2 separate regions of the Homo sapiens genome follow, and region 2 is linked to region 1. The links come from fine-mapping of genetic effects on plasma protein levels. A gene starts in region 1. The other region holds a variant in brackets. All regions are shown on one strand. Distances are between the middles of the regions. Region 1 holds the start of C1RL (complement C1r subcomponent like). Region 2 holds the start of C1R (complement C1r).

Region 1 (8,525 bases):
AAATGATTGAAGTGTTAGCAATAAGGTGACCAACTGTCCTGGCGTGTCGGGGAACTTAACTGGTTTTAGTGTTGAAAACCTCATGTCCTAGGAAAACCTCATTTCTAGACAGACCAGGATGATTTCTAATAGGTTACCCTATTAGAAAAAAGTCCCCCCAAATTCAGACATCCATTTTCATTTCTACATCGGCCTTTCAGCTATACTTCTTTGCTTTTTTCTACTAGTAGTCACCCTAGGGCAACTGTTCTCAAACTTTATACCCTTAAAAAATTATTGAGAACTCCAGAGAGCTTTGGCTTATGTAGGGTATATCTATTAATAGTCACTGTACTAGAAATCAAAATTGAGAACATTTTAAATCACAAAGATACACAAGCACGCATCCCGCTCACTGCCACGGATGAATCATTGCACATCACGTAGCCTCTGTAAATCCACCATATACCATGACAGAATGAGAGGGAAAAAAGCAAAGAACATCTGAGTATTTTTATGAAAGTCATTTTGTTACCTCACAGACCCCGTGAAAGGATCTTAGGGCCTGTGGGTCTTCCCACACCACAGGGTGGAGACCCGCTGCTCTGGGAATTAGTCTGCATCCTAAACTCCAGTTTTCTCAGTTCCTATTGTACCACTTCATGTGAAATGAAGGAAACTTGTAACCATGAGTCCACCCCCTTGTCCTCTATACCAGCAGTCCCCACCCTTTTTGGCACAAGGGACTGGCTTCATGGAAAACGGTTTTTCCACAAACCAGGGATGGGGCCAGAGGGAGATGGTTTCAGGATAGTTCAAACACATTACATTCATTGCATGTTTTCTTTCTATTATTATTGTTATTGTAATATATAATGAAATATTAATAATTATACAACTCACCGTAATGTAGAATCAGTGGGAGCCCTGAGCTTGTTTTCTTGCAACTAGACGGTCCCATCTAGGGGTGATAGGAGACAGTGACAGGTCACCAGGCATTAGATTCTCATAAGGAGCACACAGCCTAGATCCCTCCATGCATAGTTCACAATAGGGTTCGTGCCCCTATGAGAATCTAATGCTGCTGCTGCTGCTGCTGCTGACAGAAGACGAAGTTCAGATGGTAATGTGAGTGATGGGAAGCAGCTACAAATACAGATGAAGCTTTGCTTGCTCACCACCACTCACCTCCAATACTGGTCCACGGCTCAGGGGTTGGGGACCCCTGCTTTATACTACAGTCTTCATATATGTTACAGCTACATATGTTATAAACCTCACAATACAATGTTATAATTTTTGCCTGGAACAGTTCTACATATTTTAAAGACATTAAAAAGAAAATCGTATTTTATATTTACCTTCAAATTTACCGTTCTTCTTATTCCTGTCTGCAGCTCTGCTCTTCCAATTTGAGACAGCGTCTCACTCTGTCACCCAAGCTGGAGTGCAGTGGCACCGTCATGGCTCACTGCAGCCTCCATCTTCCGAGCTCAAGCAATCCTCCCACCTTGGCCTCCCAAAATGCTGGGATTATAGGCGTGAGCTATCGTGCCCGTCCTAAAGAACTTTCTTTAGCGCTTCTCATAGTGGAGGTCTGCTGGCGACAAGAATCTCTGTTTTCTTTTATCTGAAAATAGCTTTATTTCATCTTCATTCTGGAAGAATACTTTCACTAGAAAAACAATTCTGAGTTGACTTTTTTTTTCCTTCAGCATTTTAGAGATATTCCACTGTCTTCTGGTCTATATTGGTTTTGATGAGAAAAGAGTGACATTGAAAATATTGTTCTGTCTAGTCTTTAGGATGGGATTAAAAAAAAGAAAAGATTTTCTCTTGTCTTTGGCTTTTAGCAGTTTGACCATGATGTGCCAAGGCATGCCCTTTTTTTCATTGACCACTCTGCCAGTTAGAGACGAGGTCCCAGTGTAGGGGAGGTGGTGCTGAAAACACAGCGGGGCACAGCTCAGCCCTAGCCCACAGGGGCCTGCAGTGACCAGCTATGCACAGAGCCATCAGCTCCTTCTCCAGTCTCACATCACCAGCCATTCCTCCCCTTGCCCTTGACCCTAACTCATGCTGCAGCCGCACACGCCACCTAGGTGAGACCAAGGTGGGCCCTCATCTTCAGAGTGCTGGATTACCCCAAACAGGGACCACATCCAGACCCTGGACTGCCCAGTCACCTGGGGCTGCCGGTGCATCACTGCCTCCCCACCCTCTTGGCTCCCTGTCCTCTTTCTCACCCAGCCTCACTCCAGCACTTTAACCCCTATCCATTTAGGGTGACCACCAGTCCTGGCTTGCCCAGAACTTCCCTCATTTTAAAACGGAAAGCCTCATGTCCTGGGAAACCCGTCGGTCCCACGCAAATCAGAACAGTCGGTCACCCTACCTGTCCTGGAGTTTCCTTCCAAGGCCTTACTCCTCCCTCCTCCAGCTCATCTCCAGGAAAGTCTTCTCAGATGGGCTAGCCTGAGTTTTCCAGTTCCTGCCCCTCTTAGCAAACAAGGAAATAATGCTCTGAAGGGAAACGAGGGGTGGACTCCCCAATCCTGATCTGAGTCTTGGCTGGTTTCTTCTTAACACATGGGTCTTGGGATTGGTACCATTGTTCACTCTTTGGCTGCATCTCTGGCTCCCAAGGTGCTCCAGGTGACCCTAAGAGTTCTATGAGAGAGCAGGTTTCAGTGGTCTCAGGGGAGGAAAGAAGTCCTAGTCAGAGAGGCCCACTCCTCGAAGATGGGTATGGGAGATCATCCCCAGTTGTGTTTGGGGTTGGGGTGTGGCAGACAGGTAGGCTTGATCTCAAGACTGTACCTGAGACATTGCATCTGTCCTGGCCATCACTCTCTTATCATCTCCTTGTAGCCATAGACTGTGGCTCTCCTAAATCTCTCTAGCCTAGAAAAACCAAAGATGCAGAGCACACCCTGTTTGGGTCTGTAACTTGCCTCCATATTACTATATGCAAAATGGGGGAAGCAATAGATTCTTCTCTGAGAGGTGTGTGTGCGCGCGCACATGCATTTGTGTGTGCATACAACGTAAGGCCTTCCACACACCTGCCTTCTCTGAGGATGGGACCACCCATCTCCATAAGAGCCTTCTGGCCTCCTACCAAGCTGTGGGTGAGTGTCCTTCCTCGGGGAGCGGTGAGAGCAGGCAGGGGCTCTAGTATCTGCCTAAAGAAGCTTGAGTGACGGCTTGAGTGATGACTGGGACTAGGGACTGAGGGACACCTGGGCTCGACCCCAGCCCTGACCATGCTGGACAAGCAGCCTCCAGAGGTTGTGAATAGGATTCAAAAGACCACCTAAGCGCATGTCCCCCACCCCTGCTTGGGGAGGAGGGAAAGGAAGAGAAAGCTCAAGTTCAAGGATCACAAACTTCAATTCTACAAGAGGGAGGCTCCCCGGGTATGTCGTGAACGGAAAGGTCGGGGAGGAAGAGACATGGCTGATTGAAGGCAGCAGCCATAACTCACAAGGAGCCATCCTACACACATGGCAAAAATTAATGTTAAATAGTACAAAAGGGTCGAGTCAGTGCCCTGCCACCCTGACCTCTGAGGGCCAGCGAGGTTTTTGGACGTTTCTCCCCTAAGCTGCGGCGGGCCCGCTGTTCCTGAGTCAGACGGCAGGTGGCGCTCAGCCCGGAGAATTGGAGAAGGGGAACTGTGGAGTTGCTTAACATTTCCAGGAACTTCCTCCTCCCCCACCGGCCTTCACCTTTTGTTCCCTATCCTGGGCCAGTTCTCTCGCAGGTCCCAGATGTCCAGTTCCAGATGCCTGGACCCAGAGTGTGGGGGAAATATCTCTGGAGAAGCCCTCACTCCAAAGGCTGTCCAGGCGCAATGTGAGTGTGGCCCCGGCAGAGGAGGAGGGAAGAGGACGGGAGGGGAAGAGAAAGGGTGGGTGGCCGCAAACCCTCCCTCCCCCCACCCTACCCCCCCCACACACACATCCCCCCCCCCCCCACACACACACACACACACACACCTCCCCCACATACACACACCAGCAGCAGCAGCAGCAGCAGCACAGCAGATATTCCATGGGGAGACTGAAATTTGCCTGTGGCCTCTAGCACCTTCCCAGAGGGTGGTCGGGGGATATTTACGGCAGACCCTCACTCGCCCCACCATTGCTCCCTCGGATCCCAGGGTGGGGTGGGATCTGCTGAAGCAGAAAGCACCCCCCTCCTTTGGACGAGACTCTCCTGGGAGATGAGCAAAGGTGATGTCTTCGGAGGATGGAAAACCCACAATCCTAGAGCTCAGGCTGCGCGGGAGGCTGTAGGGATTGGGGTGAGGAAGGGGAGCAAGGGAGGAGACGGGAAGTGCCCGGGCCTCAAGGGTGAGGCCACAGCTTCTAGCCCTGCCTCGCGAGGCCTCTGAGTCCTAGCGCGGCTCCCCCGCTCCTCCCACACCCACAGGCTTCCGGCCATAGCTGCGCGGCCCCACCTTGCCCTCCCCCCAACTCACAGGTGGTGGCTGCTTCTCTGGGGAGTCCTCCAGGCTTGCCCAACCCGGGGCTCCGTCCTCTTGGCCCAAGAGCTACCCCAGCAGCTGACATCCCCCGGGTACCCAGAGCCGTATGGCAAAGGCCAAGAGAGCAGCACGGACATCAAGGCTCCAGAGGGCTTTGCTGTGAGGCTCGTCTTCCAGGACTTCGACCTGGAGCCGTCCCAGGACTGTGCAGGGGACTCTGTCACAGTGAGCTGGGGATGGGGGGGGTCCCGCCAGGACTGTGGCCAGGGAGATTCCCGGGGTTGTGGGAAGTGGCGGTGCCCTGAATCCCCCATCTGGAGGAGGGATGAATTTTCCATGTAGGGGCAGTCGGGCTTGGCTTACCGGGGAGCAGTGGTGGACCCCAGGACACAGCCTCCCACCAGCGCCTCCGGGGCTGCCATCTGGGCCCCACAGAGCAAAGAGGGCAGCAAGCAGGCCCTGCGTTTGGAAGGCTTATGAATGGACACACAAATCTTGCAAATCTATGGAGCCAGGGGCAGGGACGCACATATTGGTTGTTAAAAATATGTCATCATGTATTTGTTGAGTGCCTGCTCTATCAGGTGAGGAAGCTGGACACAAATAATAACAAAAGATTAAGTCACCGTTCACACTTACCTTGGAAGAGCTATTACAAAACTTCTAACGCCAAAGCCTTATTCAGAATAAGGACATTTTAAAAACAGTACTTGATGGAGTGATGCAAGCTTGCAGTCCCAGCAGTATAGTCAGGAGACTGAGGCTGGAGGATCAGAGGGCTGGAGCCCAGGGTTCAAGGCCAGCCTAAGCAACATAGCAAGACCCCATCTCAAAAATAAGTAAATAATAAATAAAAATAAAAAGAGCACATTATCTTTTGATTTAAATTTTATTTATATCAAAATGACATAAATTTTTGAACTTTATTTTTTAATTTTAAAATTTTTAATTATTATGGATACATAATAGTTGTAAGACTTTTTGTTTTTTAATTAAAGTTTTCTAAGGCTGGGCGCAGTAGCTCATGTCTGTAGTCCCAGCACTTTGGGAGGCTGAGGCGAAAGAAGCACTTGAGCCCAGGAATTTGAGACCAGCCTGGGCAACATAGCAAGACCCCATCTCTACAAAAAAATTTAAAAATTAGCCAAGTGTGGTGGCACGCACCTGTGGTCCCAGCTACAAGGGACGCTGAAGTGAGAGGATCACTTGAGCCTGGAAGGTAGAGGCTGCAGTGAGCTCTGATCATGACACCGTACTCCAGCCTGGGTGACAGAGTGAGACCCTGTCTCCAAAAAAAAAAAAAGGTTTTTAAAAAGGTTTATGAATAACAGCAGTCTCCAAGCTGTTCCTCCCCGCCCCTGAGTGCTGCTCCTCAGGAGCAGTCATTTGCCAATTCATGTAGCTGTTTCATCTGGTCTTTAACTTCATATGTATAAATAACATGCTTATTTGTCTTTCATTTTTACGTATTTTCTATTAATGCTCAACTACAGTATAGAAGATAAGGACTAGCTTTATCTGTCTTCAGTCTTCACCACCCACATTTCCCCTCCTCATTCTGCCAGTTTACCTATATTATCATTTTTAGTTAAATCTTTATTCATTATTTACATTATTATGACTGTAAAATATTCACATCTGAGCACATAGCATAAAATAATTATATTTCTTTTCTTCTCCAACTTTTGGGTTTCCTAGGAGTCAATAGTTACATGGAGTTTTTTTGTTTTGTTTTGTTTTGTTTTTTGGTGGGGGGTGTTTGTTTTTGTTTTGCTTTTTAGTTTGCTTAGTTGTCTCTGTAACTAATCTCACCAGACTCTTAACCAGGAGTGTAAATCTTCTTCTGAAATACTCAAGCATGAATTTCAGTCTATCGGTCCTCCTTTTAATTGGTGACATCCCTCCTGAAGATCTCTCGATTTATTTTCACAGCCTGAGTTCTTTGCTCTCTAAGCCGTCACACATTCTGGGAGTTCTCTTCTCCCTCTTTCTGGGGATTTCCTTTACCTGTGCTGAACCTGAATCCCATACCTTTCTCTTTTTTGGTTTACTCTCCCATTTTGGAGGAGCACCTTCACCAGTGGCTTCCTTAGAAAGGGTATTTTAGAGTGAATTTTAGAAGATCTTATATATGTCTAAATGTCTCAGTTCTACCCTCACAGTGGAGGGATAGTTGATCTGGGTATAGCATTCTAGATTGGAAACCTTTTTCTTCCAGAATTTTGATGATATTGTCTTCTAGGTCTAGACTTTGTTAAGAAGTTTGATGCCCTTATCATTCCTAATCCTTTGTTTTCTCTCTCTAGAACTTTTGGAATATTTTCCTTATTACCAGTATTCTGGACTTTCATTATGATGTCTCTTGATACACGTGGTTTTTTACTCATTGTGCAGATTTCTTTTAATCTAGAGCCTCTTTTAATCTAGTCCTTCAATTCTAGGAATGTTCTTGTGCTATTTTTTAAATAATTTCCAGATATCTCATTTCCTTAGTTTCTCTTTCTCCTATAATTCAGCTGTTGTATGTTCTAGATTGATTCTCTAGCTTTGTTATCTGTTTTGTTCTATTTACCATCTCTTTTGTTCTGCCTCCTGGGAAATTTTCTCATCTTTAAATCCCCATCTTTTAGTTAATGGTTTCTTTCCACTGACATATTATTTCATTTCTAAGGATTCGTTCTAATTTTCTAAATGTGCCTTTTTATAGAGTATTGTTCTTGTTTCATTGATGCAGTATCAACTCCTTTCCCTCCTTTGGGATTATTTTTAGATGTTTCTTCTGTTCTCTATAGTGGGTCTATTTCATCCAAGTTCTTTTTTACCGTTTGTCTGTTTTGGTCTCTGCTTTTTGTGTTAGAGACTTTCCTACGATATCTGATAATACTTGGCTGTCCATTCATATTTAAGGCCGGGCGCAGTGGCTCACATCTGTAATCCCAGCACTTTGGGAGGCCGAGGCAGGCAGATCACCTGAGGCCAGGAGTTTGAGACCAGCCTGGCCAACATGGTGAAACCCCGTCTCTACTAAAAATACAAAAATTAGGCAGGCATGGTGGTGTACGCCTGTAATCCCAGCTACTTGGGAGGCTGAGGCATAAGAATCGCTTGAACCTGGGAGGTGGAGGTTGTAGTAAGCCGAGATCAGGCCACTGCACTACAGCCTGTGGGGTGCAGAGTGAGTCTCTGTCTCAAGGAAAAAAAAAAAAGAGTGGAGCACTAAAATACTGATTGGAAGTTCTGTGTGGATAGCTAAAATTTGTCAAATGATAGGTTTGAAAATAGGGTTATCGACAAGGTGACCTAGATGTGCCACTGGGGGCCTCCCAACTGTCAGGATGTAAAAGCATTTTATTTGGGGGCAGCCAGTTTCCCCTGAGAGGACTCCTGCAGATTCCAGCTCAGGGACCCCAGCATTCTGGTCAACAAGCTGAGAAAAGGGCCTGGTGGAGGGAGATGCAGCTCACTGTTTGGCAGGTAGACTTTCACTTAATCCTTCTGTTTTTGGTACAGTGAGTCCTCACTTAAAATCATCCATAGGTTCTTGGAAAGTATGACTTTAAGAGAAATAACATAGAATGAAACCAATTTGGCCATAGAGCTAATTGATATAGACAAGAGTGAAGTTTCTACAGCAATTACTGATCACAGAAACATCACCAAACCTCTAAATAAAGACCCCAAACACTTCTAATATTAAATATTGAAATACATGTGAACTATGCCTACATGTAAGAAAGGTTAATAAAAACGAATAAGATTATTTACCCAATTATTCCAGTTTGGGGTCACGGGTGGCCACAGCCTGTTGCAGCAGTTCAGGATGCAAGGCATGAACCAGTGCTGGACAGGACACCATCCTGTTTCAGGACGCACTCACACACTCATACTCACTCACACTGGGACCGTGGAGACATACCAGGTCGCCTAGCAGGCACAGCTTGGGATGTGGGAGGAAACCAGAGGACCTGGAGAAAACCACTGAAGACATGGGAAGAATGTGCAGACTTCACCCAGAGAGTGGCCCCGGACACGGGGCAATATTTTTTCTCGTCAA
Region 2 (8,001 bases), 12 kb after region 1:
TGATAGATACTTTGCTGCCACACATGGTGCTACTGTGCATATCCTTGCATTTACATCTTTGAGCACATGTGTGAGAATATCTTTAGACTAAATTTTTAGAAATGGAGTAGGTTAAAAAATATTTGCATTTTAAATTTTGATATTGCTAAAATTTTCTCCAAAACGGTTTTGCTAATTTACATACCTATCAAACATATATGGAAGTGCCTGTTCCCCCCTACCCTGCTTGTCACAGTTATCTTCAAACTCTTTGAGTGTTGTCAATCTGATCAGTGAAAACGAACTCAAATGTTTTAAAAAAACTAAAAATAAAAAATAAAACACTGTGCAAGTCAAACCAAGTATAGCCATGGGCCAGAATCAGCCCCTGGGTTGCCAGTTGGCAAGTCTGTGCTAGGTGCTGTTTTCCTATAGCTGTGAACTATAGTCAGCCCATCAGCGAGGCCAGCAGGGGCTCTGAGGCCATCAACGCACCTGGAGACAACCCTGCCAAGGTCCAGAACCACTGCCAGGAGCCCTATTATCAGGCCGCGGCAGCAGGTGAGTCCCCACCTGCCGAGGGGTGGCTTCCATCCACCTCATTCCCACCCAAATGCCTGACACCCTCTGAGCACCTGCTTCGTTAACCAACAGCTTCAACTCCGAGCCTATTTCTTTGCCTCTCCTCATTTACGCCACAGGGGCACTCACCTGTGCAACCCCAGGGACCTGGAAAGACAGACAGGATGGGGAGGAGGTTCTTCAGTGTATGCCTGGTGAGTAGCCACCTGCTAGCACCATTCCCCCAACAAGCCTCAGCTGCAACTGGGACCTACAGGACACAGGGGTTAAAGGAAAGCCTTAGAATAGAAAGGAAGATAAGAAGCAGAAGGTGAGGAAGAACAGGGCAATCAAGAAGGCCCAGAAAAGAACAGGCAGGGAGCTTGTTCCTCATTCTTCAGGGGTCAAGATATATCTGAGGAAAAGCATGAAGGACGTTCATGAGATGGACTAGAAAAGGAGGAAGAGAGACCAACAAGCTGAAGTAACAGAAAACCCTCTTTTTGTGCCATACATTTTAAGGATATACCGACAGGCTCTCTATTCCTAAAATATCTCCCTACCTAGATGCCACACAGTGCCAGACAGTCAACCATTTTAAAAAAAATTATTGAGATAAAATTCATGGCTGGGCGCAGTGGCTCACTTTTTTTTTTTTTTTTTTTTTTTTTTTTTGGGATGGAGTTTCTCTCTTGTCGCCCAGACTGAAGTGCAACGGCACAATCTTGGTTCACTGCAACCTCCATCTCCTGGGTTCAAGCGATTCTCCTGCCTCAGCCTCCTGAGTAGCTGGGATTACAGGCACCTGCCACTATGCCCAGCTCATTTTTTTATTTTATTTTATTTTTTTTTTTTTTTTGTATTTTTAGTAGAGACAGGGTTTCACCACGTTGGTCAGGCTGGTCTTGAACTCCTGACCTCAGGTGATCGTCCCGCCTCAGCCTCCCAAAGTGCTGGGATTACAGGCTTGGGCCACTGCGCCCAGCCTTAACCACTTTAAACAGTACAATCCAGTAATGTTTAGTGTGTTCACAATGTTGTGAAACCATTACCACTAATTCCAGAACATTTCCATTACCTTCCCCAAAACAGCCCAGTACCTCCAACTCTCCCCTGACAACCACTAATCTTCTATCTCTATGGATTTGCCTTTATGGATTTTATATCAGTGGAATCATATAATGTGTGGCCATTTCTGTCTGGCTTCTTTCAGTTAGCGTAATGTTTTCAAGGTTCATTCCTGTTATAGCATCCATCAGTATTTCATTTTTATGGCTAAATAATACTCCTTTCTATGGATACGCCATTTTGTTTATTCATTCAACTGATGGACATTTGGGTTGTCTCTATTTCTTGCCTATTATGAATGATGCTGCTATGAGCATTTGTGTACAAGTTTTTATATCAACGTACGTTTCTAAATCTCCTGGGTATATACCTAGCAGTAGACTTGCTGGATTGTATAATAATTCTGTTTAACTTTTTGAGGAACCACCAAACTGTCTTCAACAGCAGCAGCACCAAGTTACATCTCACCGGCAATACATGAGGGTTCAAGCCCACCATTTTTGAGATCCACGCTTTTGAATGAAAGCATTGCCTTCTTTTGTTTTGTTTGTTTGTTTGTTTTGAGACAGAGTCTCGCTCTGTCGCCCAGGCTGGAGTGCAGTGGCGCGATCTCGGTTCACTGCAAGCTCCGCCTCCCGGGTTCAAGCCATTCTCCTGCCTCAGCCTCCCGAATAGCTGGGACTACAGGCGCCCGCCACCACGGCCGGCTAATTTTTTTTTGTATTTTTTAGTAGAGACGGGGTTTCACCGGGTTAGCCAGGATGGTCTCGATCTCCTGACCTCGTGATCCGCCCATCTCGGCCTCCCAGAGTGCTGGGATTACAGGCGTGAGCCACCGCGCCCGGCCGAAAGCATTGCCTTCTTAACCCAATCTGATCCACGGAAAACTCTAAGGGTAGCCTGAACACTCGCAGTGCTTTGGGGATGGTTTGGAGGGCAGGTGGTAGTGGGAGATGTTACAAATGAGGAAGTGACACAAAACTGAGGCAGGAGGCACTGAAACAGACTCTGCCTGTAGTATGGGGGCCCAGGATGGTCCAAACGAATGGCTTTAATGCCTCTGAGGAGGCAGGAAGGAGAGCCCTGCAGAACCAGCCCCAAACATGTGCTCATCTGTGCTCCCTACCCTCAGTCCACTGTCCTGAGTCCCATGCAGGATGGGTGCCCCGTACACTTGGCATTGATTACCTGTCCTTGTCTGCCCACATGGTCTACACCGTGGGTCTGCATCAGTATAAGAGTCCTGATCCCGGCCAGGCGCGGTGCCTCACGCCTGTAATCCCAGCACTTTGGGAGGCAGAGGCGGGTGGAACACTGAGGTCAGGAGTTTCAGACCAGCCTGGCCCACATGATGAAACCCCGTCTCTACTAAAAAATACACAAAAATTAGCCGGGCGTAGTGGTCGGTGCCTGTAATCCCAGCTACTCGGGAGGCTGAGGCAGAATTGCTTGAGCGCAGGAGGCGGAGGTTGCAGTGAGCCGAGATCGCGCAAGTACGCTCCAGTCTGGGCAACAAGAGCGAAACTCGATATCAAAAAAAAAAAAAAAACGTCCTGATCCCAGAG[T/C]CTCTTCACGCGTCCCCTACCACAGCACTTCAGAGAAGCAGGTCTTTAATCAGTGTGTCTAGATGCAGCTGCTGACTGTCACCCCTACCCCGCCTCTCTCCCAGTCTGCGGACGGCCAGTCACCCCCATTGCCCAGAATCAGACGACCCTCGGTTCTTCCAGAGCCAAGCTGGGCAACTTCCCCTGGCAAGCCTTCACCAGTATCCACGGCCGTGGGGGCGGGGCCCTGCTGGGGGACAGATGGATCCTCACTGCTGCCCACACCATCTACCCCAAGGACAGTGTTTCTCTCAGGAAGAACCAGAGTGTGAATGTGTTCTTGGGCCACACAGCCATAGATGAGATGCTGAAACTGGGGAACCACCCTGTCCACCGTGTCGTTGTGCACCCCGACTACCGTCAGAATGAGTCCCATAACTTTAGCGGGGACATCGCCCTCCTGGAGCTGCAGCACAGCATCCCCCTGGGCCCCAACGTCCTCCCGGTCTGTCTGCCCGATAATGAGACCCTCTACCGCAGCGGCTTGTTGGGCTACGTCAGTGGGTTTGGCATGGAGATGGGCTGGCTAACTACTGAGCTGAAGTACTCGAGGCTGCCTGTAGCTCCCAGGGAGGCCTGCAACGCCTGGCTCCAAAAGAGACAGAGACCCGAGGTGTTTTCTGACAATATGTTCTGTGTTGGGGATGAGACGCAAAGGCACAGTGTCTGCCAGGGGGACAGTGGCAGCGTCTATGTGGTATGGGACAATCATGCCCATCACTGGGTGGCCACGGGCATTGTGTCCTGGGGCATAGGGTGTGGCGAAGGGTATGACTTCTACACCAAGGTGCTCAGCTATGTGGACTGGATCAAGGGAGTGATGAATGGCAAGAATTGACCCTGGGGGCTTGAACAGGGACTGACCAGCACAGTGGAGGCCCCAGGCAACAGAGGGCCTGGAGTGAGGACTGAACACTGGGGTAGGGGTTGGGGGTGGGGGGTTGGGGGAGGCAGGGAAATCCTATTCACATCACTGTTGCACCAAGCCACTGCAAGAGAAACCCCCACCCGGCAAGCCCGCCCCATCCCAGACAGGAAGCAGAGTCCCACAGACCGCTCCTCCTCACCCTCTACCTCCCTGTGCTCATGCACTAGGCCCCGGGAAGCCTGTACATCTCAACAACTTTCGCCTTGAATGTCCTTAGAACCGCCTTCCCCTACTTCATCTGTTGACACAGCTTTTATACTCACCTGTGGAAGAGTCAGCTACTCACCCGCTATTAGAGTATGGAGGAAGGGGTTTTCATTGCATTGCATTTCTGAAACATTCCTAAGACCCTTTAGTTGACCTTCAAATATTCAAGCTATTCTGCAGCTCCAAGATGCAATTATAGAAACAGCTCCTTTTTTATTTTATGTCCTCTATATGCCAGGTGCTTCACCTGTTATTTCACTTAATCCTCATACCATATTTGCAAAGGATGTGTTATTATCTATGTGTGACAAATGAGGAAACTGAGGCTCAGGGGATAAAGGGACTTGCCCAAGTCCCACAGCTGGTGTGTGACTGCAGAGACTGTGCTCTTCCCAGTGTGCTGCAATACTTCTCAACCCTCCTCTAACCTGCTGTGTCACCCGCTTTCCCTCCCAGCCCCCACATCCTTACCATTTTCCCTCCCTGGGAATTCCTGCTTCTGCGAAAATGGTATCCTCTAGCTCACACTTTCCTAATGGCCCCATCTCCTGCAGAAGCCAGGTGAGCCCAGCACTGGACTGAAGTTCTTGCAGACACCCCACCTGTGCCCCTATCATCAGGGGAACTGCTCCACCTGAGAGGACCAACTCTTTAATTTTTAGTAAAACCTGGAGGTGATGGGCCGGGCGCAGTGGCTCACGCCTGTAATCCCAACACCTTAGGAGTCCGAGGTGGGTGGATCACGAGGTCAGGAGATCCAGCCCATCCTGGCCAACATGGTGAAACCCCATCTCTACTAAAAATACAAAAATTAGCCGGGCGTGGTGACACGTGCCTGTAGTCCCAGCTACTCGGGAGGCTGAGGCAGGAGAATCACTTGAACCTGGGAGGCGGAGGTTGCAGTGAGCTAAGATCACGCCACTGCACTCCAGCCTGCGGACAGACCAAGACTTCATCCCCCCCAAAAAAAAAAGATTGGAGGTGATTTACAGTGAAAGACACAAATAAAATACAACTGTTCAATGGAAATAGAAAATAAACACCATAAAAGAGAGAAGAGAGGTAATTTGTTAGCATCAAGAGTCAAGTTGCTATATGGTCAAAGGTTAAATTTATCTCTAAAAAATGGCAGGATTCAAAGTTGTACATACATGTGATTACTTCTGTTTTTTACACCCACATACAGTACAAAAGATTATTAAAAATATTCCCAAAAGGCAGGTGCAATGATGCACACTTATACCCCCAGCCACTCAGGAGGCTGATGCAAGAGGATCGCTTGAGCCCAGGAGTTGAAGTCCAGCCTAAGCAACATAGTGAAACCCCATCGCCAAAAATATAATAATAATTCTCTCAAAATACTAAACAGAGGTGGTTTTATTGATAAGATTTTGGCTGTTTGGTTTTCCACTATTCTCTATTGGCTAAAATTTGTTTAATGAGCATGAAATGTTTTTATTTTATTTTGCTTATTTTTATGATTGCAAAAAATGATATGAGTTTCTCCCTGCCAAGGCAAAAAAATATATATATACCTATATTTATATGTGTATGTCTAGATCTATATCTCTACATCTCCATCGCTGTCTCTGTCTAGAGATAGAGATATCGACAATGAGAGAGAGAGGGAGGTAAGAGATAGAGATGATGGAGATAGATGAGCTAGCGATAGAGACATATCCACAGAGGAAAACCTACCACTACTTTAAGAGAGAAATCTTTTTCCCAAGAATCAAATCCTTAAAGGAACAAACACTGTAACCGACTATATCCTCAATAATTGTTTTAAAACAAACGCAGCAGCATTTCATATGGCATTTTTTTCCTTCTTGGTATGAGTCAAGGACAAAACAAAGTCAAGGACATAACAAAAATGTGTGAGTAAAGGTTATTTTGAATGGTTGGGCAGAGTGGAGACAGGGCTGGGACTGAGCTAATGACATCCAGGTTTGCCGCTCTCCAAGCGTGTTGCACAATGCCAACGCAGAACTGAGAATCCCTAGGATGGACGGAAGAGCTTCAGCTAAGACTTACCTCCTTACCTGTTCCCTCTGCCTCCATTATGAACATACGGCACATGCGCGCGTGCACACACACACACACACACAAACTGCTGCTAGGATATTAATGTGCAGTTTGTTAGACGAGATTCCCCTTCCTTCTCGTCCTCTGATCTGGTGCTTTTCCTTCTCCCCCATCTTTTGTCTTTCCTGATCTAACAAGGCTGTGGATCATATGCTGATCCCATCACAGACCAGCCCTCCGTTAGGTTCAGTCCTCAGCTCTGACACACAGGCCTGCTGGAGAAACCCTCCAAGCGTTGGTGGATCTTGCACCTTCTGTGTGCCTGCTGTCTAACTACTGATGATGTGGTCACTGCCTGATGGGGAACTGCATCAGCTCTGTGAATTCTTGCAATCTATTGCCTGGGAAAGTGTCTTGCACATTAAACAGGTAGCCCATAAATGGATGAACGGGGGTGGGGGCAGAAGGGTGGAGGTTGGAGGGATTCATCTAATAAGGGAAACAAGCAGAACAGCCTACAAAGGCTTAAGAACGCAGAGTCCTGCTCTGCAGCCCAAGCCCCTCCGTGGGATGAAGTGCCATCAGATATTTGGTGCCATGGAGAGTTGATGAAGAAAGCCTTCCAAAAACAATGAAATTGTTTTTTAATTTATTTTAACTTTTAGAGACGAGATCTCACTATGTTGCCCAGGCTGGTTTCGAACTCCTGGGCTCAAGAGATCTTCCCACCCTGGCCTCGAAAAGTGCTGGCATCACAGGCATGAGCCACCACACGTGGCCAAGAGCAAAAGTTTTAAAGCAGGACACTATGGCCTGATGGACAGGAGAGACTAGGGTCCCTCCTCCCTCCCAGGGGCCTGGCTTCATCTCAGAAAAACCGAGTCCCTCTTGCTCCACACCCGCATCCTTAGCTTCAGCCCTGGCAGTTGTGTTGAGCAGATGCTAAGGAGATGGGGACATTTTACCCCCTCCGCAGCCGCCCCAGAGGGTCTCAAACCCAGGGCTGATTTAGGGTTGCCCTGACATGGCCAACCCTATTCTATGTCCAAGTGTCATTCATGGCTAAAGCAGGCCAGGGCCCCAAGGCAACCAAGCTCCTCTCTCCTCTGCCCGCTCCCACACACCCTCCTCTGCCCCAGTGTTCCTATCATTACGTCCTGGGCATTGAAACCCGGGCCATTCTTGGACCAGGGCTGTGGGCTGAATGAGGGCAGGAAGAACAGGGTCAATGGGAAAGGACAGCCCAGAAAAGAGAATTCACCACCACCTGTGGTCTCCCACTGCTTTGGTAGGAACCTTGTAAACACAGCAGCAGCCCCCAGGAAAGTCTTGGAAGAAGGGAGAAGCTGATCAGATTTAGAGACTGAGACATCTGGGCCTCCAACCCAAGGCTCCCCGGGCCCTAAAAAGCCAGACTCCCGTCTCCTTAGCCCTTTCCCTCACCGACCAGCAGGTGGCACCACAAACAGGGATTTCAAAACCAAAACTAAATTAAAGTGGAAACTCAGATCTTTTGTTTATGCAAATAGTTCATTCCCTCCAACATTCCTCCGGGAATGGTCCCCCCTCCACTCCACAGAAAACCCTCCCCTCCCTGCTGTGCATGACGCGGGCTCCCTCTGCACACAG

Evidence for each region. PIP is the chance, under the fine-mapping model, that this variant and not a neighbour inherited with it causes the effect. The UK Biobank Pharma Proteomics Project read protein levels with antibody pairs (Olink). The fine-mapping took linkage between variants from a reference panel, not from the people measured, so its PIPs are less certain.
Region 2: its variant is fine-mapped to the plasma level of the C1RL protein (UK Biobank, PIP above 0.99).

The regions. Positions count from the first base shown.
Region 1 is chr12:7,104,422-7,112,946 of GRCh38, reverse strand. C1RL (complement C1r subcomponent like) reads left to right here and starts at 3,733. Exons shown (of 6, transcript NM_016546.4): 1 at 3,733-3,837; 2 at 4,468-4,696. The coding sequence starts at 3,767. It overlaps C1RL-AS1 (C1RL antisense RNA 1), which reads right to left and starts at 4,639. Exons shown (of 12, transcript NR_026947.1): 1 at 4,466-4,639; 2 at 4,000-4,274; 3 at 2,800-2,883; 4 at 2,375-2,649; 5 at 1,341-1,922; 6 at 883-940. RefSeq lists enhancers at 3,792-3,871, 4,512-4,681, 3,514-4,713.
Region 2 is chr12:7,092,440-7,100,440 of GRCh38, reverse strand. It overlaps C1R (complement C1r), which reads left to right and starts at 7,996. Exons shown (of 11, transcript NM_001733.7): 1 at 7,996-8,001. C1RL (complement C1r subcomponent like) reads left to right here. Exons shown (of 6, transcript NM_016546.4): 4 at 415-540; 5 at 681-755; 6 at 3,278-5,887. The coding sequence ends at 4,050. RefSeq lists an enhancer at 7,654-7,948. The variant T/C (reference allele first, on the strand shown) is at 3,174.